Linked DNA regions of Homo sapiens. The protein of the gene in region 1 interacts with the protein of each later gene in a biochemical or structural test. Each region holds a gene or a part of one and is shown on either strand. Other genes may lie near its edges.

What was found.
Region 2: the proteins of VCAM1 (region 1) and ITGAD form a complex in vitro, tested with the Homo sapiens proteins (one study listed by BioGRID).

The regions. Positions count from the first base shown.
Region 1 is NC_000001.11:100,724,617-100,740,367, forward strand, and holds the end of VCAM1 (vascular cell adhesion protein 1 isoform a precursor), read left to right. Parts: intron 1-7; coding exon 8-274; intron 275-4,490; coding exon 4,491-4,766; intron 4,767-6,581; coding exon 6,582-6,902; intron 6,903-7,801; coding exon 7,802-8,068; intron 8,069-9,885; coding exon 9,886-10,152; intron 10,153-13,506; coding exon 13,507-13,667; 3' UTR 13,668-14,429; downstream 14,430-15,751. UniProt on the Homo sapiens protein: Cell adhesion glycoprotein predominantly expressed on the surface of endothelial cells that plays an important role in immune surveillance and inflammation.
Region 2 is NC_000016.10:31,384,339-31,401,070, reverse strand, and holds the start of ITGAD (integrin alpha-D isoform 2 precursor), read right to left. Parts: upstream 7,737-16,732; 5' UTR 7,711-7,736; coding exon 7,680-7,710; intron 6,836-7,679; coding exon 6,730-6,835; intron 3,713-6,729; coding exon 3,609-3,712; intron 3,476-3,608; coding exon 3,405-3,475; intron 3,277-3,404; coding exon 3,162-3,276; intron 1-3,161.

The DNA.
Region 1 (15,751 bases):
CTTTCAGTATCACCCAAGAATACAGTTATTTCTGTGAATCCATCCACAAAGCTGCAAGAAGGTGGCTCTGTGACCATGACCTGTTCCAGCGAGGGTCTACCAGCTCCAGAGATTTTCTGGAGTAAGAAATTAGATAATGGGAATCTACAGCACCTTTCTGGAAATGCAACTCTCACCTTAATTGCTATGAGGATGGAAGATTCTGGAATTTATGTGTGTGAAGGAGTTAATTTGATTGGGAAAAACAGAAAAGAGGTGGAATTAATTGTTCAAGGTGAGTAGAATGTGAAAAAGGAATGATAAAGGTGCTGTCAGTGGGATTTGAGCAATAGTCAACACAGCTTCAATGCTGAAATTGCTTCCCTTAGTTTCACTGATGACCTATCTGATTGCCATATCCTTTAGCACAAATATATGTTTATCTTACTAGTACTCTGTGGAAGTCTTCCCTCCCAGAGTTTCCATGGCTCTGCTTTTCTGATTCTTTTTCATCTCATATCACTTTTTCTCTGCTTCATTCCCTCACTTTCTCTCTTCCTCCTTCCCCTTGGATATTGGTATTTTCAAGTTTACACCCCTGGGTCCTCTTCTGTTCTCACACTAGATTCCCAGGAATTGGACTACAATATGTTGATTACTCCCAAATTCATGTTCCAATTCCATGCTGTTAAATCCTGTCAGTTCTACCTCAAAATGCTCCCTGGAATATGACCTCTTCTTCACCCCACTTGCCATTGCCTTAGTTTATCATCTCTCACTTGGGCTCCTGCAAGATATTCTTACATAACAGCATTCGCTAAACACCAGATAGGTTTCTGGCACTTTCCATATGCCATCCTCAAGAAATAACTAAAAAGTAAGTATTTTGTATTCATTTTACAGATGAGAGAGTGGAATCTCCCAGAGATTAATAATGACACCACCTATTGATTGTACACCTAATATTTCCCAGGAATTCTGTATTCTGCTTTATATATTTTATCTCATTAATCTTTACCACAACACTATTAAAAACCCAGGCTCAGCATAGTTCATACTTTTCCTGGGGCTAAATAGCTCTTTAGTTGCATTTACTATGATTTTGATGCAGGTTCATTTTAATGAAAACCCCTTTGCCTTTTTAATTTTATAGCTAATTGTCTTTATTATTTCTTTTTTAAAATATTTTTAATTGATAAATCATGATTGTATACATTTATAGATTACAATGTGATGTTTGGTATAGGTATACAATGTAGAATGATTAAGTCAAGTCAACAAATCCATTGCCTCACTTGCTCTTTTGTGGTGATACATTTGAAATTCACTTTCTTAGCTATTTTTAAATATACAATATATTATCATTAACTATAGTCATCATGATGTACAATAGATCTAAACAACTTACTCTCCTGTCTAACTGAACCTTTGTATCCATTGACCAACATCTCCTTGTTCCCTTCCACTCCTCGCCCCAGCCTCTGGTAACCACCATTCTACTCTCTACTTCTATGACTTTAGAAGTAGATCCCACATATAAGTGAGATCAGGAGGTACTGGCTTCTCTGTGCCTGGCTTGTTTCACTTAGCATAGTGTCCTCTGGGTTCATCCCTTTTGTTGCAAATGACAGAATTTCCTCTTTTGTTTTTTAAGGCTGAATAATATTTCACATATTTTATGGCTAATTATCTTTAAATAGTCTCCCTGCTAAGATTCTGTCCCTAATATAATCAATCTTATGCACTGCTCCCAGGGTTTATTACCTTAAACAAAAAGGTGCTCATTTTCTATAACTTCCATCACATTTCTTAAAACTGTCACACAGAACTCTTTATGATCTGGTCAGAAACTACCTTTGCAGATCTGTTGATGACTCAGTGCCTCTGCTTACGCTGTTCCTTCTGCCTGAAATGGCCTTTCTCCTTCCTTCATCTGGCAAAATCTTAGCCATTCTCCAATATGAAGCTCATGTCAGCCTCCCAGTTCCAGACTGTGTCAGACCAAACTACATATTCTTTCTTTCGTGTACACTCAACACTCCTTATAGTCATGTATGCTATTCTGTTCAGTTCAACAAATATTAAGAGCCCTTGTCCAAGAATCCAAGAATTGTACTTGGTACTGGGGGTACAGATATGAAAAAGATATGACAACTGCCCTAGGGGAGCATACAAACTAGGAAGGAAGGACAGGCATATAAATAGGTAACGCAAATATTCCTTAGTAAGAGCCAAAATAATATATCTTTTTAAATGTGTCTTTCCACTAAACTGTAAATTCCTGCTCCGGGCACAATGGCTCAAGCCTATAATCCCAGCACTTTGGGAGGCTTAGGTGGAAGGATTGCTTGAGGCCAGGAGTACAAGACCAGCCTCGGCAATATAGTGAGACCTCCTGTTTCTATTTAATTTTTAAAAAATCTGTAAACTCCTTAAAATCAGGAATTCTGTGTGTGTGTGTGTGTGTGTGTGTGTGTGTGTGTGAATGTTTGGATTCTTAGCACAGTACCTAACACATAATAAATGTTCAGTAAATATTTGCTGAATTAATGAATAGATTATAAACATGGGCAGCATAGTCTTTTGTTTGTTTTAGGAAATGAGATCTTGCTATGTTGCCCACACTGAAGTCAAACTCCTAGGCTCAAGTGATCCTCCCACCCTAGCTGCCTGAGTAGCTGGGATTATAGGCACGTGCCACTACACCCAGCTCAACACAAATTTTTAAAATGTGAAAACATGGTATTTAAACTTGGATGATTAAAATAAAAATCAAACTCACCCTAAGTGGATTATCTCGGTTGGATGTTAGGTTAGCATTCTCAAGTGACCAGGAAAGATATTATACTAATAAAAGTGTGTAAAGCTAATCATTCACCCTGGAATAATGTCACTCCATAATAAACTGTATCCTATTTAAATGTACAAAGGACATGTATTTTGGGGCTGGGGAGAGTTGTTTTGCACTTTGCATCACATGGGATACTACTGGCCTAAAGTACTGAAAGTACTTTCAGAGAAACCTTCAGCTACCTAAAAGAGTTACTCCTCCAATGGTTCCAAGTTCACATGGCAATACATGTGGCCACTGTAAAGAATGACTTGAGAAATGTTCACAGACAGGCAGTCGATCTGTTTTTTAAAGTTCCTCATTCTCACACTAGCATATAAAAAATTCAGAAGCTCTGGTTGTTTTTGTGAATGAGCTCTCTTTCAAAATCTAATAGCATATCAGTTTATTGAGGAGAATCTTCTTCAGAAAATACTAAGATGTCATAATTAGACAAACCTATTGAGAAAAATAACTTATGGCATAGATGAGAACCATGCAAAATATAATATGTTTGGATTATTTATATATTGAGATTTCTTTCTTTTACCTTAAGCCTGTAATTTACAAGTAAGATTTCAGTGATTTTTATGGGGGGGTCTTATCTGTTGCTTTAAAAGTTGCCCAAACACTCCCAGTTTCTTCAGGGAAACAGAGCCAAGATGTGGTGTTCCCTTTCTCCCTAAATAGCAGTCATCCAAAAGAAGCCCATGCACCCAGCCGGGATAGCGCTGATGGCCAAAGAGCATTCCTGGATATTTGAGTCTTAGGAGTTTGCCCTCACATCTCGGCTTTCAGACCCTGAATTAATTGTAAAGTATTTTTATATTGCATCAGGCAAATTTTGGAGGTGACTTATGTATCATTTTAATGCTTAGATTTTGACTTTGATTTCAGGATGATGCTATGTGACTTTCAGTGGTATAACTGTATTATTGGAACAGAAGCTCTAAATGCTTGTCCACTGTGGGCATTATATCTAATTAGAAGACATTTTTTGTAGCTTTTTCCAGTACCTCTTTTAGACCATTTTATCACCATATGAGGATGACTTGATTTAGTTGTTGTAGCAACTGAAAAGCTGGGATCTTGAATCAGACCCACCTGGCATCAAGTCCTAATTTTGCTACTTGCAAACTGGGCAAAGTTATTTAGCATTTCTGAGCCTAAATTTCCTCAAGAAGAAAAAGGAGGGGGAAAAGGAGGAAGAGAAAGAGTAGAAGCAGAAAGAGAAGGCAAAGAAGAAAGAATAGTACTAGTGTACAAAATTGTTGTGAGGATTAAATGAGAATATATATATATATATATATATAGTAATTTAGATAGTGCTTGACACACAAGAACCACTTAAATTATTTGAGTGATTGTCCACTCTTACAGTGATTTGATAAACTACATTTGAGCAGATACTCTATTATTGCTGTGAAGAGATAGCAACCTCTCTTGACAAATTTTTATCTATTCAATTTGTTAAATGAATGAATCAACAAACTATCGTGGTTTCATTCTTAAAAGATGTGGGCTCATTTCTGATGGTCCCAAGGTGGAAAAGAGTAATTTCTTCTTGGCATGGATATTAGCTGAAAGGAGATCAGGAAAAATAAAGATCATATGTCAGAATGTGATGAAAAAAGAAAAGAATCTTATGTTCTTTTCATCTTGTTTTCCACCTGTGTCCCAGAGAAACCATTTACTGTTGAGATCTCCCCTGGACCCCGGATTGCTGCTCAGATTGGAGACTCAGTCATGTTGACATGTAGTGTCATGGGCTGTGAATCCCCATCTTTCTCCTGGAGAACCCAGATAGACAGCCCTCTGAGCGGGAAGGTGAGGAGTGAGGGGACCAATTCCACGCTGACCCTGAGCCCTGTGAGTTTTGAGAACGAACACTCTTATCTGTGCACAGTGACTTGTGGACATAAGAAACTGGAAAAGGGAATCCAGGTGGAGCTCTACTGTAAGTGGTTTTCAGAATTGTTTACTGTTTTTTTTTTTCAGTTCTATTGGAAGAAAAAGAATGCAAGTCTGTGAAGTGCAATGAAATCCTTATGTTTAGAAAAGGAATTTAGCCTTGTGAATTTTGTTCCTAAATCTGAATCAGAATGGTTTGATGCAATATAATTAGCTTAAATCTTAAATATATATTACATATGTACACAGCACCCACAATCCTTGGTTTATGCCTTGTCAATACTCTCTCATCATGCACTTGAACACACTCCATGCTGGAGGTGAGTGCATTGGGGTCAGTGCCCATTCAGAGGACTGGGTGGAGGTGACTACTGTTCAGCTACTCCAGTTGGGAATGAGTAGTTTTAAACTGTTTTAAGGCACTGTTTTAAAGGCACATTTGATGAGCTGTCTGCAGGATGGGAAAAAAATAAGGGAATAGGAAGCAGAAGGAAGCCAAAATTAAAGATAAGAAGTTAGATTGGGGATGGGGATGGTCAGTGTCAGTGGCTCAGGTGAAAAGCAGAATCAGGAAGCAGCGCTAGATCTTAATGTTGATTTATGCCACCTACATATACTACACTTTCTCTCACTCTTCTTTTGTCTTAATAAACATTCTTTGCAACCTCAAATCTCTATGAACTTGACATTGCTGGAGTTCCTCAGTCCATATTGAATGAAGAACAAAATATGCAAAGTGACCATAAAGTTATTTTTTTTTGAGGGGGTCACTCTGCCTTGTTTTATTCAGTAGAACTCAAGAGAACATATCGTAGAGATTTTCTACCAGAAACCCTGCCCAAACTTGTGTTACCCTTCAGGATTTTGTTCAGAATGAGTTAGAGTATGCCTGTAAAGGGATTTGGGTCTCTCCAAAGAAAGATAAATTTTATTTGCATTATCATATTACCCAGAGTCCATGATCTGCTGAGATAGGCACATTCCCAGCAGAAATGAGAACCAGCAGTGGGGTCTTATTGCAACATAGAAATATTTGAGCATGTATCACTTTAACAACATTTTGGTTAAGGAAAAAAATGTTTAAGCATTATTCTTGCCCTTGATAGCTATCTTAGTCTCATTTTACTGATTTGTACTGTATTATAAAGAATACAGTTAAGGCAGTTCTTGATTACAAGTATTATCTGAGAAATATTTAAAACTTGCTGCCTAAATTTGGTCATTAAAATTTAAACTAAGTTGAGAACTTCCTTGTTTGTCTTATTTGATACTGAGAGACTGCACAGCTCTGTAAAACCAAAGCTGGGCTCTGAGGTCAGAGAAATATGGATTTGCAGCCCATCTCAGTGACTTACTAGGTATAATGTGTGAAGAAAGTCTCTTAGCCTCTATATGTTTCAGTATTCCTGGCTGTAAAATAAGTAATACTCATTTTACACAGCTGCTTTGAAGACTGAGATAATGAATATTAGGGGACTAGTTTACAATAAGTATTCAACATAACATGGCAAATTTTAAAATGTGAAATATATACTTACTAAATAAGATGGTGGAAACTGATGTATACTTAGAAAAGGTCAAGCCATGGCACACAGCAAGATTGCATATTAAGAAGAAAAGAAATAAGTGAAAATTTATTACTCAATGACTGGATATACTAAGTAGTTTTTGTTTCTAACATTATTCATATATAATATCATAAATATGTCATTTATAAATACTGTCATTACTTATATATTGACAGTCATTCTATCCCAGGTGACTTAAAGCTGTCATTTTTAGGCCTTTACATTTAATAAAGCTTAGCTCAATTTTTCCTTGAATATCAAGAATAAAAATCGTTTTTGCTTGCGATTTGCAGCATTCCCTAGAGATCCAGAAATCGAGATGAGTGGTGGCCTCGTGAATGGGAGCTCTGTCACTGTAAGCTGCAAGGTTCCTAGCGTGTACCCCCTTGACCGGCTGGAGATTGAATTACTTAAGGGGGAGACTATTCTGGAGAATATAGAGTTTTTGGAGGATACGGATATGAAATCTCTAGAGAACAAAAGTTTGGAAATGACCTTCATCCCTACCATTGAAGATACTGGAAAAGCTCTTGTTTGTCAGGCTAAGTTACATATTGATGACATGGAATTCGAACCCAAACAAAGGCAGAGTACGCAAACACTTTATGTCAATGGTAAGTACATATGTGAGGTATCTACAGTTTAATACCTGTCTCTTTATCGTGTTTGCCAGGCAATAGTTAACATAAGGTTAATCGTTAAAACCTCTGTGGAGAAAAAACGTTACTGAAAAGAAATTTCAAAATAATGATGATTGTAACAAATCACCCTCCCTAAACTTAAAATAGTAACTATTTACTGGCTTATGATGCTTTGAGTAGGCAATTTAGGAAGGGACCAGCTAGGCAGTTATTCTGTTCAATATGGTATTAGCTGAGCTCACTCGTGCATTTTCAGTAAGGTTAGCAGGGCTGGCTGGTCTCAGATGACTTCACCCACATGTCTGGAGCCATATCTTGGATGACTTGGCCTCTCTTTCTTTATGTGGTGTCACCCTGAGGAACAGTAGCCTAGATTTACTCTCCAGAGCTCAGTGTTTCAAGAAGGTGTAAATGAAAGCAGCCTCTTCAAGGCCTGGGTTTGGAAGTCCTACAGTGTTACTTCTTCTTCCACATTCAATTGGTCAAAGTGAGTCATGAGGCCAGCCTAGAGATTCAAGGGGTGGAAAAATAGACCACATCTTTTCACAGAAGGAGATTCAAATAATTCACAGTCATGTTGACTCTACCATAAATGGCAGTACACACTATCATTGACCCTCGTCATTCTTTGGTTGCAAGGAAGTGTATACTGAACTTACTTCCATTAGAAAACACCATGACGTGTCCATGTTCTACTCTATCATTTGGTATCAGCTAAAGTAAATGAGGACCAAAACCTCTTGTGGTGAATTATCAAGGTTTACAAACTCTTTGAGTCTGCTGAATCCATAGCCCAGTTTTGCAACATTATTAAAACTCTTTGGAACTCAGGGCATAATAGGTCAAGCTAACAAGCGTCTCTGCCTTTTCAGTTGCCCCCAGAGATACAACCGTCTTGGTCAGCCCTTCCTCCATCCTGGAGGAAGGCAGTTCTGTGAATATGACATGCTTGAGCCAGGGCTTTCCTGCTCCGAAAATCCTGTGGAGCAGGCAGCTCCCTAACGGGGAGCTACAGCCTCTTTCTGAGAATGCAACTCTCACCTTAATTTCTACAAAAATGGAAGATTCTGGGGTTTATTTATGTGAAGGAATTAACCAGGCTGGAAGAAGCAGAAAGGAAGTGGAATTAATTATCCAAGGTGAGCAGAGTGTGAGTAATGAGTTATCCTTGCTAGTAATGTTTTTGGTTATGTTACTGATTATGAGTAAAGTCTTTGAAAACAAAATTTTTACTACAAAAGTGTGATGAGGGTTTTGAAGAGTTTATGATGTTTCCAATGTATGGAGAAATCTCCTGAAATTGTCTTTTCTCATGAATTGTTACAAGTTTCTTATCCTGAGATTCTTTTAAACTCAAGTGAAATGCAAGCCTTCAGGACCTGTGTCAGAAGTTCCAGTTACACTTATGAGGCAATGGTTATGGTATTGAAATAAGAATAGGAAGAGGAATATCTGCATTTGGGATTATGTAGGATTAAAGCTACCATATCTGGCTGAATTGAACTCTGAGTGGCAATCTCACAAGATGGCCAGTAGTATTTGCTTAGAAGCCTAAGCTGGCACTTAAGTCTTTTGCAAATTCTGAGATTATGAGTAGCCATGACTCCGTCCTTTGGTTCATCAGCCTGAGAGCATGGAAGCACTAAAGTAGATTAAGTCAACAGATCTAGGCCCCTTCTCTTTAGGATGGAGACCCAAGATTGAGAACAAGACAATTATTAGTTCGCAGGTTGAAGCCATACGGAGTTATGAGCAAAATCATCAGGTGATCAATGTGGATTTCCTCTATCCCATCCCTTTTGGGTATCAGGGTTCTTTTCTTTGCCAGGGTTGTCATTTTGTCTATTACCCCTTGGCATTATTCCCACTAAGATATTAGTGACTTTCTTGTTATCTCAACTCAATAAGATTTGTATTTTAGAAGAAGAATATTGGAAAGACAATACACATCCTTAAAAAACAGACAAACAAACAAAAAAACCTTTTGGATGGTTGTCATGACCTTGGATGGGGAAAGAATTTCAAATCAACTTACAAAATAGAAGACCTTAATAGGGATTAAAAATTGGTGATATGGTACCTGCCTCCAGTGGTTGTTGCATTAATAGAGATGTTATATGTCAAGTACTTAGCTCAGTGCTTGGAACTTAATAAATGGCAGTAGTATTGTTAAGGATAGTGAAAAAGCCACATCTGTACAGCTTAACTTCTTGATTGAAGAATCCAACTCAAAACTCAGAAACCTGTAAAGGCCTTTGTACTTCAAGGAAATTTTTTCAAAACAGTATTACAAAAAATTAAGTTTCTATTTCACATCTGAATTCTATAGCTCTTTATCAAACACTGTATTTGTCAATTTTCACACTGCTATAAAGATACTACTTGAGATTGGTAATTTATAAAAGAGGTTTAATACAGTTCCACATGGCTGGGAAGACCTCACAAAATGTGCAATCATGGCAGAGGAGAAAGGGAAGCAAGGCACACCTTAACATGGCGGCAGGCAAGAGAGAGTGAGGAAGTGCCACACTTTAAAACCAAAAGTTCTCGTAAAAACTCATTAACTATCATGAGAACAGCATGGGGGAAACAGCCCCCATGATCCAGTCACCTCTCACCAGGTTCCTCCCTCAAAACGTGAGGATTACAATTCAAGTTGAGACCTGGATGGGGACACAGAGCCAAACCATATCAAACACCTATTCTTTGTGCTAGGCTGGGTAAATAATTATATTAAGGAACATGAAAGAAGCATAAGCCATGTACTCTCTTAGTTAAAACATGATCATTTCCAACAATCCAGCAATGCTTGACTTCTTTACTTGCCCTTCTTAACATTTAATGCAAACGCTAAGCACAAATAGCTCCAGGGAAGCTATTGTTGATGTCGCTAAATTAATATGGAGTTGGTTTATATTTCACTCAATCAGGGATGTCTTTTAAATTCTCTTTACAGTTACTCCAAAAGACATAAAACTTACAGCTTTTCCTTCTGAGAGTGTCAAAGAAGGAGACACTGTCATCATCTCTTGTACATGTGGAAATGTTCCAGAAACATGGATAATCCTGAAGAAAAAAGCGGAGACAGGAGACACAGTACTAAAATCTATAGATGGCGCCTATACCATCCGAAAGGCCCAGTTGAAGGATGCGGGAGTATATGAATGTGAATCTAAAAACAAAGTTGGCTCACAATTAAGAAGTTTAACACTTGATGTTCAAGGTGAGTTTGTTTTGAGTTTTTGTTTTCTTGGTAATAGTTCAGAGGTTCCAAGGATTACTAAGAGTTTCCAATATTTGATGAATGAGTTGGCAAAATGGAGCTGTGGTTTATTTCTTAAGGATTCTTGGAAAAATCAAGCACAGCTGCTTTATCCTATAAAGTTTAGCCAGGAAGTTGACATTAATCATTCGTGACTGAGGAATTCCTGCTTGCTTTTTTCAGTTTACAATTTATCATTTGTCTCTGAGGTCTTGCAGTTGCTAAATGTTTAACCATATTTTCAAACCTTTTCCCGGGAGGTTATAAGGAAACTAAAGAAGTAGGATTGGCACATTGAAAAAGAAGGGTTCTATCCAGACCCTCTTCCTTTCTACCAGAAGGAAACACTATTTTCTGAACATGGAGTAACTGCAATTTTCTGGATTGACTCTTTTCAGGATAATAATTGGGAATAGTAAACTTGATCCTGAACAACATAAAAAAATCTCTCGACTATCGAAAAGCCTCATTAAAATTCCAACCCACTTGCCATCCTACTCTATTCTGGTGGACAGAGAAAGAGAGGAGCAGTATCCTCATTGGAGAAACTTCAGGGGCCCCTTAATCTCCTAAGCCCTCTTGTGAATGCACAGTAGGTAGGATCTGCTGATCTTATTGGTGTAAACAAAATACATCAGCCTTGGCTGATCAGTATCACACCCCTTGCACACCAATTAGCTGCTATTGTGTAATGGAGGCCATACTTGGCGGTGGAGTGCAAACAGGACTGCAAACAAATGCCAAGTCTTAAGAGGTCTGGCACTTGGCTATTGGAGTGAGCAATCACTTGTCAATGCAGAGAAAATTTGAATCTACATCAGAAACAGGTAAAATTTTTGTTCGTCTACCCAAATTTCTCAAAATGGCAAGCCTTACCGTATGTATGTTTTCCATCTTCACAGTACCTCCTCAAAACATGAGAATAGCTGTATAGCTATACATCCATCTAGAAATGTTAAAGAAGGGGAAAACATCACGATTATATATGAAACTTCTAGTCATCCACCTGCAGTGATTATCCTGAAAAGAATTGATCTAGCCAATGAAGTTACTATGTGTTCAAAGAAGGGAACATTTACTTTGTATCATGTCACTCAAAATGATTCAGGGGTATATGTAATCAGTGCTTCCAATGAGGTTGGGGATGATTCTGGACAGATTGCAATCTCAGTTATGAGTAGGTTGAATTTACTCATCCCTATTTTCTTTAATCCTTAATGCCTCTGGGCCACCTTTAATTAAGCCTAGCCCTGGGAAATTGGTCCCCTAACATTTCTGTAATTCTTTTGTTAATTAATTGTGACCTTTTAAAGACACATCAAACCTGCTTCTCTACTTTTTGACTCTGTCTCACACACATTGCTTTATTTTCTAATTGCTTTATCAAATTAGCCACTTACACAGTTGCTACTTTTTACTCATTATTTAAATGAACAATCAAAGAATATTAAGCGCTCAGCTAGAAACTCATGCCCCCAAACTGAATATAGTTTAAACTAGCTAAATTTTAATGAAGACCAAAAAATGGATATTTTTCTGGGTATTTTGAACTAGATTTCTTTTGCATTTGGCTGGATTTTTTATTTGTTTCATTTTGTCTTAGCTTGAACGTATTCCATTAATAGAAATCATCAGGATTTTTAAAAGATATTCAGTGTTTATATGACAAATAGAAAATTGTATTTGAAGGTTGCCCTGGCAACTACCTTGGCAGCAAATTTGTATTTTTCTGCCAATGCCTGTGGGGAAGACTGAAAGGCAAAAGATAATGTATATTACATTGAAAAGAAAGAAAGAAAAGAAATAGAAATAGTATTTCTGTTTCTCAGCATGTCATCAATATTGATGCCTATCCATAATCATGTTGATGGACATCCCATTCAAATATTACCTTTATACTTTGACTAGCTCAGCTCTAGCAAGGGAAAGTCAAAAAGTGAGACAATTATCATTATGCTTAGGGTGAACTGTTTTTCTTCAATAATTTGAAAAAGTGACTTCACATTATCTGATGCTCGTGATTCTTTTTACTTGGTTGACCTCCAGTGATTAGAAAGCTCTGGAAAGAATGTAGTAATCACCAAAGTCAGATCTCTAGTTTCTGCCAGGACTGAGACAATGTATATGCCACTTAGTGAAACTTAATACTTGTGTGGTCACATGATGCTGTGCAAAGTATAAACAGGAGTGAGTCTTCAGTAAATGACACACTATCTTCTTCAGCTGCTCTTATAAAGTTAAGATGTTAAGCAGTATAGCAGCTGTCAGATGATTTTTTAGCAGATTAGAAAGAATACTAATTTTAAAGTTTTTGTATGCTGTTACCTACTGTACTCCATTTACAACTAAGTGGCAAAAGCAAAATGTAGAGAGAAAAAAATGTTATTAGTGTTTAAAAAATATTGTTTTTGGTGCCAACTAGGCCAAGCAGTGAGTCAGGTGCTGGCTGTTCAGTGATGGACTAAAAAGAAAATAGATATACATGTCTTGATGTAATTTTTAGCTTAGGGGAGGAAACTAAACTTAATAAGTAATTACATGGATAAATGTTTAATTAAAAGCTGTAATAAGGGTTTTGAAGGGAAAACGAGTGGGTTTTGAAAATATATTGAGGTTCTTAATTTAGAATGAGGGAGATATAGATTAGAGAATGCCTCTAAGAAACATTTAAGCTGTAACATAACACTGTCCAAAGAACTCTAGTTTATCAAAAGATGATATAAATGCTGAAGAGGAAAAATGTATTAATATGCCCTATTTCTGACATAAAAAACATAGAAACTTCTGTATATCTCTGAGAAAGCCATTGGCAAGATTTTTTTTTTCTCTTACGATCTTATTTGTGGCATTTAGCTATAATGGTCACACTCTGAATATTATAAGGATTTTCTTAGAGAACTGGTTAGTCATTTCAATTCATGGTCATCAGAGTCCCAGTTCTTTAGTAGATATTTTTATTTCCCCAAGCAAGTGCCTCTCTCCAATTCCTGTTCTTGCCTCTCTCCAATTCCTGTTCTTGTTAAAAACTTGTACCCTCCCTTCCATTTTACAACTGAACCTGAATCTATTTGAATCCAAGTTTGTGGAAGCCAACAACTATCATCTTTAGATCCATCATGACCATAGCAACCACCAACTGATTATTTGGATAATTCAGACAAACATGCATCTTGGGTCCTGATGGTCCTTATCACTGCTTTGATTCCCTTCTCTTTGGAGAACTAGTTGTACTGTTATAATAAACATGTAACTGTTGTTATTAAATGCTATCTTTTTGTACTAGACATTAATTGCATCCATTTTGTTATTTTCCAGGAAGAGAAAACAACAAAGACTATTTTTCTCCTGAGCTTCTCGTGCTCTATTTTGCATCCTCCTTAATAATACCTGCCATTGGAATGATAATTTACTTTGCAAGAAAAGCCAACATGAAGGGGTCATATAGTCTTGTAGAAGCACAGAAGTCAAAAGTGTAGCTAATGCTTGATATGTTCAACTGGAGACACTATTTATCTGTGCAAATCCTTGATACTGCTCATCATTCCTTGAGAAAAACAATGAGCTGAGAGGCAGACTTCCCTGAATGTATTGAACTTGGAAAGAAATGCCCATCTATGTCCCTTGCTGTGAGCAAGAAGTCAAAGTAAAACTTGCTGCCTGAAGAACAGTAACTGCCATCAAGATGAGAGAACTGGAGGAGTTCCTTGATCTGTATATACAATAACATAATTTGTACATATGTAAAATAAAATTATGCCATAGCAAGATTGCTTAAAATAGCAACACTCTATATTTAGATTGTTAAAATAACTAGTGTTGCTTGGACTATTATAATTTAATGCATGTTAGGAAAATTTCACATTAATATTTGCTGACAGCTGACCTTTGTCATCTTTCTTCTATTTTATTCCCTTTCACAAAATTTTATTCCTATATAGTTTATTGACAATAATTTCAGGTTTTGTAAAGATGCCGGGTTTTATATTTTTATAGACAAATAATAAGCAAAGGGAGCACTGGGTTGACTTTCAGGTACTAAATACCTCAACCTATGGTATAATGGTTGACTGGGTTTCTCTGTATAGTACTGGCATGGTACGGAGATGTTTCACGAAGTTTGTTCATCAGACTCCTGTGCAACTTTCCCAATGTGGCCTAAAAATGCAACTTCTTTTTATTTTCTTTTGTAAATGTTTAGGTTTTTTTGTATAGTAAAGTGATAATTTCTGGAATTAGAATGGTTGTATGTTTATTTATTATAAACTGCCTCCTTTAGTCACATTGTAGCTCTTTCTGAAGTGCTAAGTTATAAGAGTAAAATATTCAAACTATGGAAATAATACGGATACTCAAAATGTGACCCTTAGACTACTATTATTAAAATTACTGTAGGAACTTGATAAAAATGTAGATTTCTTGGTGCCAGACTAAGATATTGAATAGAAGTGTCTAGTTTTTGGTCCTTGGAATCTGCAATTTTTTAATTTAGAAAAATATACATAAAAAGATTTAATGCAGATGAACATGCACATGTTAATGGGCAACAAATGAACACCTGTGTACAGAACATTAAGAGCAAGAGATAGTAAAACTATTCTTCAGAGCCTTTTATATACCACATAGTGATGGCAGCACTCTTCCCTCACTGAGCAGTAACCCATAAATATTGTGAATCATACATTGATCATTTCCATGCTTCCTTTGGAGTTTTTTTTTTTTTTTTTTTTTTTGAGACGGAGTCTCGCTCTGTCGCCCAGGCTGGAGTGCAGTGGCGCCACCTCGCATCTCGGCTGGCTGCAAGCTCCGCCTCCTGGGTTCACGCCATTCTCCTGCCTCAGTCTCCCTAGTAGCTGGGACTACAGGCGCCCGCCACCACGCCTGGCTAATTTTTTTGTATTTTTAGTAGAGACGGGGTTTCACTGTGTTAGCCAGGATGGCCTCGATCTCCTGACCTCGTGATCCGCCCGCCTCGGCCTCCCAAAGTGCTGGGATTACAGGTGTGAGCCACCGCGCCTCGCCCCTTTGGAGGTTTTATACCTGTCTATGTATCCCTAAGTAGTACATTACTTAGTTTTGCCAGATTTTGCATTTTATATAAATACAATCCAATTATACATTTGCCTTGTAACTATTCTTTCACTCAAAGTTATGTTTTTCATAATACATTTGTGTAGTTATAGGTCATTCATTTTTCTCCACTTGGAATGGATTTTTTTTAACTTTTAAGTTAAGGGGTACAAGTTTAAGTTTGTTACATGGGTAAACTTGTGTCATGGGGGTCTGTGTTGTACAGATTATTTTATTACCCAAGTATTAACCCTAGTACCCATTAGCTGATTTTCTTGATCCTCTCCCTCTTCCCACCCTCCTTCCTCCAAAAGGCTCCAGTGTGTGTGTTCCCCTGTATGTGTCCATGTGTTCTCATCATTTAGCTCCCACTCATGAGTGAGAACATGTGGCATTTGGTTTTCTGTGTTAGTTTGCTAAGGATAATGGCCTCCAGCTTCATCCATATCTCTGCAAAGAACATGATCTCATTCTTTTTTATGGCTGTATAGTT
Region 2 (16,732 bases), on another chromosome or scaffold:
CCCAGGCTGGTCTCAACCTCCTGGGCTCTAACGATCCACTCACCTCGGCCTCCCAAAGCACTGGGATGACAGGCAAGCACCCCAGTGCTGACCTTGGGCCTCTGTTATGATTGCATTGCATCCACCCTTCATGCTCCCATGGGTGCGGTGCCCAAGAATATTCCCAGTTGGGAGTGGTGGCTCACGCCTGTAATCCTAGCACTTTGGGACGCTGAGGTGGGCGGATTACTTGAGGTCAGGAGTTCAAAACCAGCCTGGCCAACATGGTGAAACCCCATCTCTACTAAAAATACAAAAAAATTAGCCCGGCATGGTGGCGGTGCCTGTAATCCTAGCTATTTGGGGGGCTGAGGCAGGAGAATCACTTGAACCTGGGAGGTGGAGGCTGCAGTGAGCCAAGATTGTGCCACTGCACTCCAGCCTGGGCGACAGAGTGAGACTCCGTCTCAAAAAAAAAGAACATTCCCAAGTGACCTCAGAGTTTGTGGAGTTCACTCTGCAATCGTGAGGGCACATCATATGCACATGAACAAATAAGACTTTTCATGCTGTCCCCAGGCTCATGGGGGGTGTGTGGCCTGTGTTCAGGGCCCAGTTGGTACCTCCACCAGCAGCCACATCCTGTGCTGCCCGCAGGGCACTGGGAGATCAGGCCACCAGAGCACTAAGGTGTGAGGCCCACACCACAGGGCTGTGGTTTCTGCCCCCTGCCCACCACTGCAGAAAAAAAAAATGCCTTTTCCTCTTTCCTCTCCCCTACCCCACTTGCTCAACCACTGGTGCTTCAAGGGTGCTGGGGAGAAACAGAAGGTCACTTCCTTCCTGCTTCTTCAATCACCAGCAAATCTTGACATCCATGGGGCAGGCTGCAGATCCCCCCAGGAGCTCCCCGTTTTTTGCCCACATCTGGGCAGCCAACATCTTGCAGTGGTGCCTGTTTTTTCAGCTGCGTCAAGAAACCACCCTCTCATCCTCTCTCAGGCCAGGTCTGTGGCAAATCCTCTCACAATGTCTCTTCTGTTTCTTGGTCTTTTTATTGTATCCCCTGGTCTCCCACTAGCAGAAGCCTGGACTTATCCTTTTGAAAAAGGACCCCACCAATCAGGCAAGGATGGCTCAAGCTCTGGGCTCTGCCTCTTGCTATCGATGGAACTCATCTATCTGAACCTTGGTTTTCATATCTGTAAAATGAGAATGGGCCTGCCCGCCACCCAGGATGTTGTGAGGATGCAATAAGGTGATTCATACCAGGTATTCAGCACTGCTTGGCACACAGGTGATCCTCAGTGGACCCTGGTCCCTTCTACTTGGACCCACACCCCCCTTGCCTGCACCAGTTTTGTGCTCCAGTCCCATTTGCATCAGGCATCCCACCTCATGAGTTCCACGGATGGCTGTGAGAAGACATTTACCCCTTGTTTTTAAGTGCCACCTCCCTAACCTGGCTTCACAGACATCTCAGGCTGGGCACGGTCCCCCCAAGAACCCTGGATGTCCCTTCCCCCTTCCCTTGGTCCCCTCCATAGACTCCACCCTCACCATTTGCTCTGGTAATGTTTCTGCTGCTGCTCCACCTTTGTCTAAAGGCCCAGCATGCCTGTCATCATGGCCTCTCTGGTCTGAAGCCCCACCCTCGGTCAGCACCCTGAGCGGCCCCTGGCATTCCCTCTCACACGGCAGATGAGACAGTTTGCCTGTATCTTCCTCCCAGTCCCAGCATGCAGTCCCCAGCTGGAAGATGGGTCAGAGGGGCTATCACATACTATGTGCCAGGCAGGGTTCCAAGTGCTTTATGCACCTCAATCCCTTTCACCTTCATAACCCCCTGATTATTGAGCTCTATTTTACCAATGAGGAAACTGAATGGCTTTGAGGGAATGAAGCTTCAAGGGAATGAAGCCTGGTGCCCATGGAAAACAAACTTGGGAACCACCATGATGCAGACCAACCCTCAGAGAGATGTCATGGTGGTGTCCCCAGGCCCTGTTCTCTGTGGAAGACATGGGCACTGACAAAATTGCACATCGCATTTTCCGCAGCCCTGTCATTTGCTCCTCTTCGAGAGGAAAGTTAGTTTGGGGAATCCTGGAAGCTCAGCAGTGAACCATCCAGAAGAAACACCTCCCTCATGGATTTATCTTCCTCACCACGTTCTTTACCACACTAAGGTCCTTCCTCTGAAACTCAAGAAGTGGCCATGCACCTGTTGGCAACTGGAAGATGCTGTGCCCTCTACAGCCCGCACAGTGGGGCTCCTCTCTGCCTCCATCAGAACTTTCATCCCTCAGGCCAGGCACAAGGACTCATGCCTGTCATCCCAACACTTTGAGAGGCTGTGGCAGAGGATTACTTGAGCCCAGGAGTTCAAGACCAGGCTGGGTAACATAGCAAGACCCCCATCTCTACAAAAACATTTTTTTTAATTAGCCAGGTGTGATGCATGTACCTGCAGTCCCAACTACTCAGTAGGCTAAGGGAGGAGGATCACTTGAGCCCAGGAGTTCGAGGCTGCAGTGAGCTATGATTGCACCACTGCACTCCAGCCTGGGCGACAGAGCAAGACTCTGTCTCAAAAAAATTAGCAGGGTGTGGTGGTGCATGCAGCCTGACAGAAACTCTGTTTTTTGTTTTTTTTTTTTTTTTGAGATGGAGTTTTGCTCTTGTCACCCAGGCTGGAGTGCAATGGCACAATCTCAGCTCACTGCAACCTCCGCCTCCTGGGTTCAAGCGATTCTTCTGTCTCTGCCTCCCGAGTGGCTGGGATTACAGGCGCACACCACCACATCCTGCTATTTTGTTTTGTTTTGTTTTGTATTTTTAGTAGAGGGGTTTCACCACATTGGCCAGGCTGGTCTCGAACTCCTGACCTCAGGTGATCCGCCCACCTCAGCCTCCTAAAATGCTGGAATTACAGGCCTGAGCCACTGTGCCTGGCAGGGACCCTGTCTTAAAAAGAAAAAAATATAAAGAAAAACCCTGCAAAGAACTTCTACCCTGGAGCAGCAGGGCTCCTGCCTGAGCCACCCTCTTCTCCTGGCTTCTCTCCTAGCCACACTCGGCCCTCCAGGGAGGGCACAGGGGCCCAGACACAGGCCTCACGCCTGCTCACCCTCAGTGCCAGCATGTGCTCCACAGGGAACCATGGCCTGCCAGGGACCTACCTGGCGTGGCGTCGGGGACTGTCTGGATGATCTCCCAGCGCGAGCCCAGCAGGAGGCAGGAACCCTTTGAGTATGAGTTCTCCCCACAGACTCTGTGCAGGGTCGGGCCACAGGCCTGGAGGCAGAAGCCTGTGAGCCAGGAGTCCCTAGCAGCCCCTCCTCCTTCACTCCCAGCCCCAGCCTCCTCCCCAACAACACCCCCCGCCCCACCCCACCCCCCCGTGGCCCAAGACACTCACTCACCAGGAGCCGGGAGCCGTTGGTGGAGGCTGCCAGGGTCAGGCCCAAGGACATGTTCACGGCCTCAGGGCGGACTGCAAGGGCAGACACGCGGGGTCTCACTCACAGCACACACTCATTTGCGGGGAAGGTCTGGACTGGAAGCTAAGCGGGGGCACAGTTGGGTCCAGGAGGGTTGAGGGGCCCAATTCCCAGGTGGTCACTCACTGTGCAGCGGGATGGGCTGGCACATGCCGGTGGCAGCTGCGCAGTCATACAGCCGTCCCGTCTGGTTGGCCGCCACCACCTCCAGGGGTGCTCCCACCACGAGTCTGGAGACACAACCATGGCCATGTCACTGCAGCCACAGGAGGGGTGGGAGCAGCGGGCACTTGGGGGTGAGGAAGTGTCCCTCCATGGGGAAGCGAGACTCTGTGGGGGAAATTCCTGGCATTTGCCACTTGGCAGAATATTCAGAAATCAGGGCCCAAGTGTAACTCACAGATGCCCAGGGGCCATGCTGGGGTTTATTTGGTTTTGAGTGTGCATAAGTACGTATGTGTGTATTTATGTTTAGAAATTTCTTTTTAACATTCACCAAAAAAAAAAAAAAAAAAAAAAAAAAAAACCTATTTAAAGACCAAAATGGCATTTCCCAATCATGGGTAAGCACATTGCGTTTCTGAGTTGCCATTATTTTGAACCACCCAAGAAATAAGATCATCTCAAGTTAATTGGAACAATTTCCTGAAGACATGTGCTTTCAAAACAAATAGTTGATTCTGTAATTCATTGGACCAATTTAAATATTGTATAAGCAATTTCAATTGGCCAATGTAAAGCAGTGTACTAGGATCCATAACTATATCTATAGTTATGTAGAGTCAAGGGTTTATTTGCAAAACTCCCTGAGTGGGAAAGTTTTTTAATTTTGGAAATGTTTTCTCACTACCCACAATCTCCTGTCTGTGAGAAAAGCAGACAGATACTGGTGTATTTTAATGCGCCAAGCAAGGCTTCATTAAATGGCCATGTGAGGGTTCCTTCTAGGTGCCGCTCCTTTACAGAAAGCTACAATCCCTGTGCATCATGATTCAGGGGATGCCTAAGGCTTTGTGAAGAAAATCTGAGCATTGGCTAGAGAGGTAGCAGTTTGGAACCTGCTGATACAAACGATGAGCAAAACTTTAGTGTAACCCATCAACCCATATGTTTTTTGAGACAGAGTTTCACTCTGTCACCCAGGTTGGAGTGCAATGGCGTGATCTCAGCTCACTGCAACCTCCACCTCCCAGGTTCAAGCAAATCTCCTATTTCAGTCACCCAGCTAGCTGGGATTACAGGCACCTGCCATCACGCCAGGCTAATTTTTGTATTTTTTAGTAGAGACAGGGTTTCACCATATTGGTCAGGCTGGTCTTGAACTCTTGACCTTAGGTGATCCACCCGCCTCAGCCTCCCAAAGTTCTAGGATTATAGGCATGAGCCACTGCACTCAGCCAATGTATTCTTTTTTTAAAATGTGGCCCAAAAAACTGATGGTGACAGAAGTCTGACCAGGGGTTCTCTGGGGATGTTGGGTGATGAGAAGGGGTCCACGGCAGCCCTGTGCCTGTGGGATTTGACACTGGAGCAGCTGACCTAGGTGGGGCTCACCCAGGCACGCACATGTGTATCCTTTATCAGATTGGGTCTTTCAGATTTGTGCACCTCAGTTGACCACATTTCCAAATAAAGAAAAACAAAAGCCTGGTGCCTGGTGCTTGCTTCCATCCCCCCAGACTGCCAGTCACATGAGGAAGGGAGAGGGGTGCGCGGTTGGAGCTCGGTGACCTCTTATAGCTCCTCGTGACCAACTGAGCCTTCCTGTCCACTGGGGCTCACTGCCAGCACCACTTCCTCCATGGAACCCTCCTGGGTCTGCTCTCTCCCTGCCTGCGCCCCCCAGACCTTGGTGACACCTGTGTCACATTGTGACTTGAACTCTCTGGGACAGGAGAATGTGAGCTCCTGGAAGTGGGGGCAGGTTCATAATTTGTGGGTCCCAATTTGAAATAAAACTGTGGGGTCTCTTGGGGTTGGGGGGCTCTTACCTTTCTTCTGCTCTCTTCCTCAACCTGTCCTGACGTTTTTTATTTGCTATGTAGTGTCCCACTCCCTCGGGGTACTCCCAGAGTGAGCGCCCCTAACTGACTTTACCCAGCTCATGCCAGGGGCGGAAGGTAGCAGCGGTCATTGCTCCCACATGGGTGGGGGAGCCAGCAGCTGATACCCCTTCACCACCCTTCAGGAGGCGGTGGGAGGTGGGGCTGCTGCTGAGCTAAGGCTCCAAACCCCCAGTGCATCTCCCTTCTCCCATGACTTTTTTTTTTTGACGGAGTCTCACTCTGTCACCTAGGCTGGAGTAAAGTGGCACGATCTCGGCTCACTGCAACCTCCACCTCCCAGGTTCAAGCGATTCTCCTGCCTCAGCCTCCCAAGTAGCTGGGATTACAGATGCCTGCCACCATGCCCGGCTAATTTTTTTTGCATTTTTAGTAGAGATGGGGTTTTGCTGTGTTGGCCAAACTGGTCTCAAACTCCTGGCCTCAGATGATCTGCCCGCCTCAGCCTCCCAAAGCGTTGGGATTATAGGCGTGAGCCATGGTGCCCAGCCCTGCCATCATTCTTTACTTGCAAAACACAAATGCACAGATAAAATTTTTAAGAATTGGCAAGACAGGGTGGCTCACACCTGTAATCCCAGCACTTTGGGAGGCCAAGGCAGGAGGATTGCTTGAGCCCAGGAGTTCAGCCAGTCTGGACAACATAGCAAGACTCCATCTCTGTAAAAAGTAAAACAAAACAAAACAAAAAACAGGCATGATGGCATGCACCTGTGGTCCCAGCTATTCAGGAGGCTGAGGTGAGAGGATCACTTGTGCCCGAGAGTTTGAGGCTGCAGTAAGCTGTGATTGCACCACTGCACTCCAGCCTGGGTAACAGAGCTGGAGTAAAAATAAAAATAAAAATAATCAGGAATTTCAAGAGGTCAAGGGCAGAACATTAAACTCCAAAGTTAATGAGTGTGGGCCCTGTGTGACCATACTGGCCCCAAGAAGTGGGCCCTGCCTGGGAGGCAGGTTCAAGGCTTCCCTCCCGAGGTAAGGTAGGGTCTTGTCTAGAGTTTTGTGGCCTTTCCTGGGATTGAGAATAATAGGTGCTGATGTCAGGGCCTCCAAGGAGCCAAGGGAAGACTTCTCACCCCTGCTGGCCTTCCTCCAGGACACCTCCCTGGGGTAACCCACGTGTACCCATCCACAGGACTTGATGTAGTGGAGGTTGGGGAAGGAGGGTGAGTGGGGCCTACCGAGATCCACCGAACTGCACCACGCTCTGCCCAAAGCCGCCTGCATCCTCCTGGAAGATCGTAGGCTCCTCCACATCCAGGTTGAATCCATGATAAGAAGCCAGGACTGAGGAATATTTGGTGGGCGGGGAGGCTGGGAGTTAAAGAAGCCCCAATCCCTAGGACCTCCCAGCCTCTTTTTCTTTTTTTTCTTTTTTTTTTTTTTTTTTTTGAGATGGAGTCTCGCTCTGTTGCTGAGGCTGGAGTGCAACGGCACGATCTCAGCTCACTGCAACTTCCGTCTCCTGGGTTCAAGCGATTCTCTTGCCTCAGCTTCCCAAGTAGCTGGGATTACAAGTGCACGCCACCATGCCCGGCTAATTTTTATATTTTTGGTAAAGATGGGGTTTCACCATGTTGGCCAGGCTGGTCACAAACTCCTGACCTCAGGGGATACGCCCATCTCGGCCTCCCAAAGTGCTGGGATTATAAGCATGAGCCACCGCACCCAGCCAAGCCTGATTTTTGATGGCACGTGAATGTGACTCTGATGCAGTTTTCAGCAGGGGGCCTCTTCCCTACGTGCAGTCAGGACTTGGGGGAAACAGGCCCAGGGAGGTGATGTCCAACCTTTCCCCCTCCCTGGTGGCTTCTGTGGCCTTCCACTCCCGGGGGAGGCTGGGGAGACCTCTGTCACCCACACCAGGGACTCCATGAGTGGGAGCAGGGAAGCCTGGGACAACATAGCCAGCTGGAGAGGTAGCTTAGTCGCCACCTGAGCACAGCCCCTGAGCCCCTCTTCATTCAGGTCACACTCTACTGACTCCGGGCCACTCGCACATGAAGCACTCCCCTGCCTCAGCTCCTCATAAGAGTGGTTGGAGCCGACCACCAGCCCCCAGCCTGCCCTCCCAGATGGAGTCCCCTCAGAACTCCTCCAAGCTTCTCCCCAGCACCCTGGCCCCACTTACCACTCAGAAGAAGCACAGTGCCGAAGGTCATCCCTGAGCAGCGCGTTGAGGGGAAGTGGAAGGTTGGGGACAGAGCACAGAAGGTGCTCACCCTCCCAGGGGGTAGTTAAAATAATGATTCAGGGCCTCCACACAGCAGGAAGAGGGGCACAGTGGGTAGGAGGGGCGTGGTTAATTATGGAACAGAAGTGGGGGCAGGGGCCAACAACACCCTGGGGAAAAACCCTCATTCTGTCCCCCTCCACAACCTGCAGGGACCTGGCTTCCTTCTCCCAGAAGACCACCCTCCCCCAGGCCTCAGGAGCCAGTTGGTACCCAGGGAGCCCCGTAGCTCTCTGAGGTCCCACAGGAGTGGAAGGACAGGAAGCAGAATGGCTGCAGAGGTCTTGGCATGTGGATGTGAGCCGGCAGAGAGGCAGGGAGAAGGGGAGCTAGGCCAGGGTGTGGTTTCAAAAAGCAGAGCCCCTCCAGAGGAGAATGGACACCCAAAATAATAAAGTCATGCCATGGGCTACTACTCAGCAAGAAATAAGATCAAACTACAGATCAGATGCCATGGCTCATGCCTGTGGTCCCAGAGCTTGGCAGGTGGATTGCTTGAGGCCAACAGTTCGAGACCAGCCTAGGCAACATAGCCAGACCCTGTCTTTACAATAAATAACAAAGAACAAACTGCAGTTCTGTACAACAATACAGGTTAACTCAATTTTATCTTAAGTGAAAGAAACCAGACACCAGAATGCCTAATGTCTGGTTCCTTTCATATACAAGAGAATGGGCAAAATTCATCTACGAAGATAGAAATCAGAAGAGTGGTTGTCTATGGTGGGGCAGAGAGGAAACTTTTTTTTTTTTTGACAAGTTTTGCTATGTCGCCCATGCTGGAATGCAGTGGCATGATCAGGGCTCACTGCAGCCTCAAATTCCCAGACTCAAGCAATTCTCCCACCTCAGCCTCCCAGTCACTGGGATTACTGATGCACACCACCATGCCCAGCTAATTTTTTTGTTTTTTGTAGAGACGAGATCGCACTATGTTGCCCATGCTGGTCTCGAGCTCCTGGACTCAAGCAATCCTCCCACCTCCTCCTCCCAAAGTACTGGGATTACAGGCGTGAGCCACCACATCCAGCCAGGAACCTTTAGCATGTGTTAAATTTAGCATTTAACACAATATTTTAATATTTATTACATGGGGTTGGGGAGAAGATAAATGAGTGGTTGTTATTTATTTTCTGTGATTTTTCTGTATGTTTGAAATATTCCATGATTAAACATAAAAGTTCCTTTAAAATGTGAAAAAGAAAAAGGTCTATATATAAAAGGCTAGGAATAGGCCAGGCGCAGTGGCTCACACCTATAATCCCAGCACTTTGAGAGGCTGAGGTGGATGGATCACCTGAGGTCAGGAGTTTGAGACCAGCTCTGGCCAATATGGTGAAACCCCGTCTCTACTAAAAATACAAAAATTAGCTGGGCATGGTGGTGCGCACCTGTAATCCCAGCTACTCAGGAGGCTGAGGCAGGAGAATCGCTTGAACCCAGGAGGTAGAGTTTGCAGTGAGTCAAGATTGCGCCACTGCACTCCAGCCTGGGCGACAGAGCAAGACTGTCTCAATAAATAAAAAATAAAAAATAAATAAAAAGCTTAGGAATATACTTTGAAGGTTAAAATATAACAAGATCCCTACCTATAACATAAATTATTTTGTATATATATGTGACAATTATTTAAAACATTTGGCTGGGCACAGTGGCTTATGTCTGTAATTCCAGCACTTTGGGAGGCTGAGGCAGGTGTATAGCTTGAGGTCAGGAGTTCGGGACCAGCCTGGCCAACATGGTGAAACCCCATCTCTACTAAAAATACAAAGATTAGCCAGGCATGGTGGTGCACGCCTGTAATCCCAGCTACTCAGGAAGCTGAGGCAGGAGAATCGCTTAAACCCAGGAGGCAGAGGTTGCAGTGAGTCAAGATCACACCACTGCATTCCAGCGTGGGCAACAGAGCAAGACTCTGTCTCAAAAACAAAACAAAATGAAACAAACAAAACATTTAAAATGTAATTAAACATCAAGTGCAAATAATATGAAATAGTTTTCTATACAAAAATTTTACATCAATTTACTTGAGAGCTGACATTTAATGGACAGAAGAAATTAATTGTGATGCATTAACGATGCCCTTGCAGGAAACCGAGCCGAGGGCTGTGATTGCTAACTTCGAGGCTGACTTATCTACTGCCTTACAAAGACTGCCCAGGCAAAGTGGAGCGGCAGCCTTCTCCCTCTTGTGCTGAAAGGTTTGTGGCTGGCCGCACCCTGTCATCAGTTCTGTGGATCTGTGAACTTCTCCCTGTATTTGGAACCACAAAATAATTTGTTGGTGATTCTTCATAATTCAGAAATTTAAAGAGCTCTTCATTTTCTCCATCTTCACCACACCTCATCTTTTACACATTTCTATATCCCCTTTAATTTTGGACTTCCTTCTGTAAGTAGTGCTTGAAACTCACGATTTGCTGATATCAGCAACTATAAAATTCTCCAACTTTCCCTAACTCGTATTATCGCTTGTCTCAGCAAAATTTTTTGTTTTCCACTCATGTTTGGAGAGCAATGATAAGGGCAAAATGCAGTAAGGTAGTCAAATGCTCACAATCACTGCACGCTGCCAGGAAATCATCTTTCTCCCAGGCCTGGAGCTGGAGCTGCCAAGGCTCAGAGTCCACAGCAGCTGAAGGTGATGCCCCCAAATTCAGGGCATCCTCTGGGGACTTGATGGCGGCTCCACCCTTAAAGGAACCACCAGCTCTCAGTAAATTTTTAATTAATTAATCAATTAATTTTTATTTTGAGATGGAGTCCTGCTCTGTCGCCCAGGCTGGAGTGCAGTGGTGCAATCTCAGCTCATTGCAACCTCTGCCTCCCAGGTTCAAGTGATTCTCCTGTCTGAGCCTCCCGAGTAGCTGGGATTACAGGCACACACCACCACACCTGACTAATTTTTGTATTTTTAGTAGAGACGGGGTTTTGCCATATTGGCCAGGCTGGTCTCGAACTCCTGACCATAGGTGATCCACCTGCCTTGACTTCCCAAAGTACTGGATTACAGCAGTGAGCCACCGTGCCCGTCTTCTCTCAGTAAGTTTTAAAAAGTTACACTTAGATAAATAAGAAAACAAGAATTTAATAATTGTTTTCAAATCAATGTGAAGGAGAATATTTTTGCAGCCTTTCTCCAGAATGAGCTGTGTCTGCCTGGAGAGCATAACTCCAGGTCCCCATGCCTTAGAGGCCACAGCCAGGATTTGGTTTTGTTTCTCCTGGTCTTCCCCTCCTCCCAGGAAATTTGGCTTTATTCTTCACATGCATTCATAATTCTCTCTCTCCAAATCACTTTTTCCCCCGCATGAGAAAAATACATCCATAGTAATGTGTTCAAATTGCTGGCTTCCAATTCTCCCCTTTTCCATTTGGGGTATGGATTAGATGCCCTGGAATATTTGCATTGAATTTTACCTATTCATCTACTTTGATCATCATAATGATCGCTGAGGGAAGCCAGGCTGTCAATAGACACATCTAAAATACAAAGTTGATGAGAAGGATAGAGTTTGCAAATGAAAGTAATTAAATGCATTAGTCAAAAGCAGAGAGAAAGAAAACCTAGCCAATAGTTCATCAGATAGAAAAGGTTTTTCTTAATAGAAGGATATCATGAAACTGACAGTTAAAGTAGAATTAATTTTTGTTGTTGTTGTTGTTAAGAGACAGAGTCTGGCACTGTTGCCCAAGCTAGAGGGCAGTGGCGTGACCATAGCTCACTGCAGCCTCGGACTCCTGGGCTCAAGTGATCCTCCCACCTCTGGTTTTTTTGTTGTTGTTGTTTGTTTGTTTGTTTGTTTTCTACAGATGGAGTCTCACTATGTTGCCCAGGTTGATCTCGAACTCTTGGGTTCAAGCAATCCTCTGGCCTCCTAAAGCACTGGAATTACAGGTATGAACCACCGCACCTGGAGCCACTGCACCTGGCCTCGAAATTAATTTTGTTTTTTTTGAGACGGAGTCTCACTCTGTCGCCCAGGCTAGAGTGCAGTGGTGCGACTCACTGCAACCTCGGCCTCCCGAGTTCAAGCAATTCTCCCACCTCAGCCTCCTGAGTAGCTGGGATTACAGGTGCACGCCACCATGTCCAGCTAATTTTTTTGTATTATTAGTCGATACAGGCTGGCCTCCAACTCCTGACGTCAGTCGATTCACCCTCCTCAGCCTCCCAAAGTGCTGGGATTACAGGCATGAGCCACCACACCCAGCCCAAAATTAATTTTTATATCATCAGGGATAATACCTTTGTCCAGAGGGCACAAATACAGATGTTGACTTCAAATTCTTGGTCCTGTCACACAATATACTACCCTGAAGATTTTCAGTAGATCCTTTTACTTATCTGTTCACACTTGTTTTGTGCATTTCTTCATCATGCTGAATTCCTGACAGCTTTGTATAAACCACGTAGTATGGAGACAGGTTTTCCCCTCTGAGCTGATAAAGTTTATAAAATATTCTGGACACACATTCACTCAGACTAGAAACGAAATCATGACTAACTTGGATTCTGCATGTATGCCTCTCTTAAGAATCAGTTTGGCCACTTTGCCCCACTCACCCATGGGTGGGCTAACAGGCACAGATGAACAGGGGCCAGCAGAAAACACCCATGACCAGCAGGCACTTTGCATCCAATCTAGTTAATGTATTTCTTTTTTTCACTCAGTTCTCCTAAAACCACCAGCCCAGGCTCCTTGCTAGAAAAATTGCCAGGTCATGAGAGTTAAATCATAAAAAGTTGGATGCTCAACTTTTCTAGCTTTATAGATGTGTTTTTTGCAGACATGCGACATTAAAGACAATTTAGCTAGGCCAGGCATGGTGGCTAATGCCTGTAATCCCAGCACTTTGGGAGGCGGAAGCAGGAGGATCACTTTAGGGCAGGAGTTCAAGACCAGCCTGGGCAACACAGTGAGACACCATCTCTAAAATTTTTTTTTTTTTTGAGACAGAGTCTCACTCTGTCACTCAGGCTGGAGTGCAGTGGTGCAATCTCGGCTCACTGCAGCCTCTGCCACCCAGGTTCCAGCAATTCTCCTGCCTGTAGCTGGAACTACAGGCACATGCCACCACACCCAGCTAATTTTTGTATTTTTAGTACAGGCGGGATTTCACCATGTTGGCAAGGCTGGTCTCAAACTCCTGACCTCAGGGGATCCACCTGCCTCAGCTTCCCAAAGTGCTAGGATTACAAGCACGAGCCACCATGCCTGGCAACGTTTTTAAAACATTAGCCAGGCATGATGGCACACACCTTTAGTCCCAGAAGCTCGGAAGGCTGAAGCAAGAGGATCGCTTGAGCCCAGAAGACCAAGGCTGCAGTGAGCTCTGATTGTGCCACTGCACTCCAGCCTGGGCAACAGAGCAAGATTCTGTCTCAAAAAAAAAAAAAAATTACCATATGATTCAGCAATTCCACTTCTGGGTGTATACCCAAGAGAATTGAAAGCATGGTCTTGAAGAGATATTTGTGCGCCCATATTCATCATTCATGAGAGGCAAAAAAAGCAACCCAAATGCCCATTGATGGGCAAATGGATAAACAAAACGTGGTATATACACACAATGGAATATTATTCAGCCTTCAAAAGGAGAGGAATTCTGACACATGCTACCACATGGGTGAACCTTGAGGACATTATGCTAAGCAAAATATGCCAGTCGCAAAAAGACAAATGCTGTATGAGTCTATTTCTATGACATGCCAAAGCAGTCAAATTCATAGAGACAGAAAGAATTGTGGTTGCCAGGAGTTAGGGAAAGGGGAGAATTGGGAGTTGTTTAATGGGTATAGGGTTTCAGTTTTACAAGATAGAAAGAGCTCTTGAGATTGGCTATACTTAAAAATGGTTAAGATGGTAAATTTTATGTTATGTATATTTTATCACAATTAATTTTTTTAAGTTCCAAGTAACTATCTTTCTCTTTGACATTAATGTGAAAAGCAATCTCCTACTTGCCTATTCCTCCATACAACACTGAAAAGATGAATAGGCAATGGCCATGATTTGATCATGTTCACCATTTTCCCTCCTTTCTTAAGCACTGAGTCAAGGGTGAGAGGCATCCCGTGAACTACCGTGTGCTCTGTGAATACTGCCCTGCAAGCATCAGCCTCTTTAGCCTGAGTGCACCATAAGTAGTTAGCCCATTCTACTGATGCAGGGCAGGCAAGCTCCAAAATTGGGGCTTAGCCCGGGAGGGTTCTTAACTTTGCTCAGGAAAGAACTGAAGAGCGAGCCTGTGGTGGAAGAAAGCAGGTTTATTGAAGCAGCAGTGGCAGCAAGGTAGCTGTTCCTTGCAGAGCAGGACAACCCATAGGCAGTGAGCCCACAGTAGCAGCCAGTGGGCTGCTGGCTAACTGTACTTATACCGACTTTTAATTACATGCAAATTAAGGGGTGGGTTATTCAGAACTATCTGGAAAAGGTGTGGGGAGTTTCCAGAACCATATGAGGTAACTTGCTGACCGTTGCTATGGTGTGTTTCCATGGCATTTGTAAACTGTCATGGCACCGGTGGGAGTGTCTTTATGCTAATAAGTGGCGAGGGTAATGAGAGTTTGCTTTCCTGGCCATCTGCTGGTTTGGGCTGTTTTTTTAGTGCATCCCATCTTGACCAGATCATGCTCTGATTAGCTGGGTTGTGACCAGAAAACAGGTCCTGCTGATCTCCTACCTCACTATCTCTCCCACCACTCATAGGATTAACATTAATTACAAATGAACAACAAAACCTCCTTTTCTGTCACTAGAGGTTTCAGCAGCTGAAAAGCTCCCACATACATGTGTTGCACAAAGATGAAAGCTGATTCAGACTTTGTATGGCAGTGACTTATTCCAAGTATGAGGTGACATGCTTGCTCTCCCACACAAGCGTTAGTCACTGCTATTCTGCTGTATACCTCTGACATACACAATGTCCAAGCTGTTCCTTCACAAAGGAATCTTGCTCACAGCATAGTCTTCAAGCATAGTATTTGCCAGACACTGTAGGTAGCCTATCCAACAGCCACCAGCGCTGCCACCTTCCTGGCTGGTGGAGCTACCCTCCTTTTTTTTTCTCTTTTTTTTTTTTTTTTTGTTGAGACAGAGTTCTACTCTGTCCCCCAGGCTGGAGTGCAGTGGCATGACCTCAGCTCACTGTAACTTCCACCTCTCAGGTTCAAGCGATTCTCCTGCCTCAGCCTCCCAAGTAGCTGGGATTACAGGCACCTGCCACCATGCCCAGCTAATTTTTGTATTTTCGGTAGAGACAGAGTTTTGCCATGTTGGTCAGGCTGGTCTCAATCTCCTGACCTCAGGTGACCTACCCACCTCTGCCTCCCAAAGTGCTGAGATTATAGGCATGAGTCACTGCACCTGGCTGGAGCTACCTCTTTTTATTAAGCCTGTGAAAAGCACATGCTCACCTTCTCAGCACTGCATGCAACCAAGGGGATGGAATTTGACCCAATCCTAGTCAGTGGGAAAGAACTAAACCGCCCCCGCAAGGACGATCAATTGGAAGATCAGAAAGAATCTGTCAATGCTGAGACTCTGCATTAAACACTAACCTGCACCTGAACCTCTTGCAGAGTAAAGGTCTTCTGTCTGCTCTTACATGCTTTTGTTTTTTTCTATTATTTGCAGCCAAAAGCAACCTTTCAATACAGGTATGAACTCTACTGCCATTTCTACAAGCTTCTTGGAAATTATGTGACTTGTACCTACTTTTGCTACTTTAAAAAGCACCTTTGATTTATGTCACTGTGGTTTTGCTGTCTCCTCTGTATTCGGTGACAACACTAATCACTTTTGAATAGGAAAGCTACATGTAGCAGTTGTTCTAAGAAATCTCTATTGCTTTACCTGAGGCAGGCAGATCATGAGGTCAGGGGTTCGAGACCAGCCTGACCAACATGGTGAAACCCCCGTCTATACTAAAAATACAAAAATTAGCTGGGCGTGGTGGTGCGCGCCTGTAATCCCAGCTACTCAAGAGGCTGAGGCAGGAGAATCACTTGAACCCAGGAGGCAAAGGTTGCAGTGAGCCAAGATGATGCCACTGCACTCCAGCCTGGGCGACAGAGCAAGACTCCATCTCAATAAATAAATAAATAAGAAAATAACACAAAAGCTTTCAGAGGTTCATGCGACTGTTTGATAAAGTTTCAGAATGGGCAGCACACTAGGGACAAATACATGTCAGAACCAATACAACCTACCTGTCAGGGAGTATAATACCTTCTAGATATTTTCGGGTTTTGGCTCACAATCACTTATTCCGGTATGCATGTCTATACTATACGTGCACTGGGCTCAATATTTAAAAGTCAATATTGACTTTGATGACATTATTGTAAATTGTAGCAATTAGATTAGTTTTTAATCACAACTTCCATGCTTTTGAGCCATTGATCCATTTTGTGATTCGGGGATCTAATGCAACACAATAGCCAACCCTGAAAATGCAAATGTAATAAATGTACACAATAACACACAAAGGAAGAATATCAGAAAATAACACCTTGTCGGCCAAGTACAGTGGCTCATACCTCTAATCCCAGCACTTTCGGAGGCCGAGGAGGGCGGATCATGAGGTCAGGAGTTCGAGACCAGCCTAGTCAACATGGTGAAACCCCATCTATACTAAAAATACAAAAATTAGCTGGAAATGGTGGTGCCTGCCTGTAATCCCAGCTACTCCAGAGGCTGAGGCAGGAGAATCGCTTGAACTTGAACCTGGGAGGCGGAGGTTGCAGTGAGCCAAGATCATGCCACTGCACTCCAGCCTGGGTGACAGAGCGAGACTCTGTCTCAAAAATAAATAAATAAAAATGGGCATGGTGGTACGCCCCTGTACTCCCAGCTACTTGGGAGGCTGAGGCAGAGGCATCACTTGAACCCAGGAGACAGAGGTTGCGTTGAGCCGAGATCGTGCCACTACACTCCAGCCCGGGA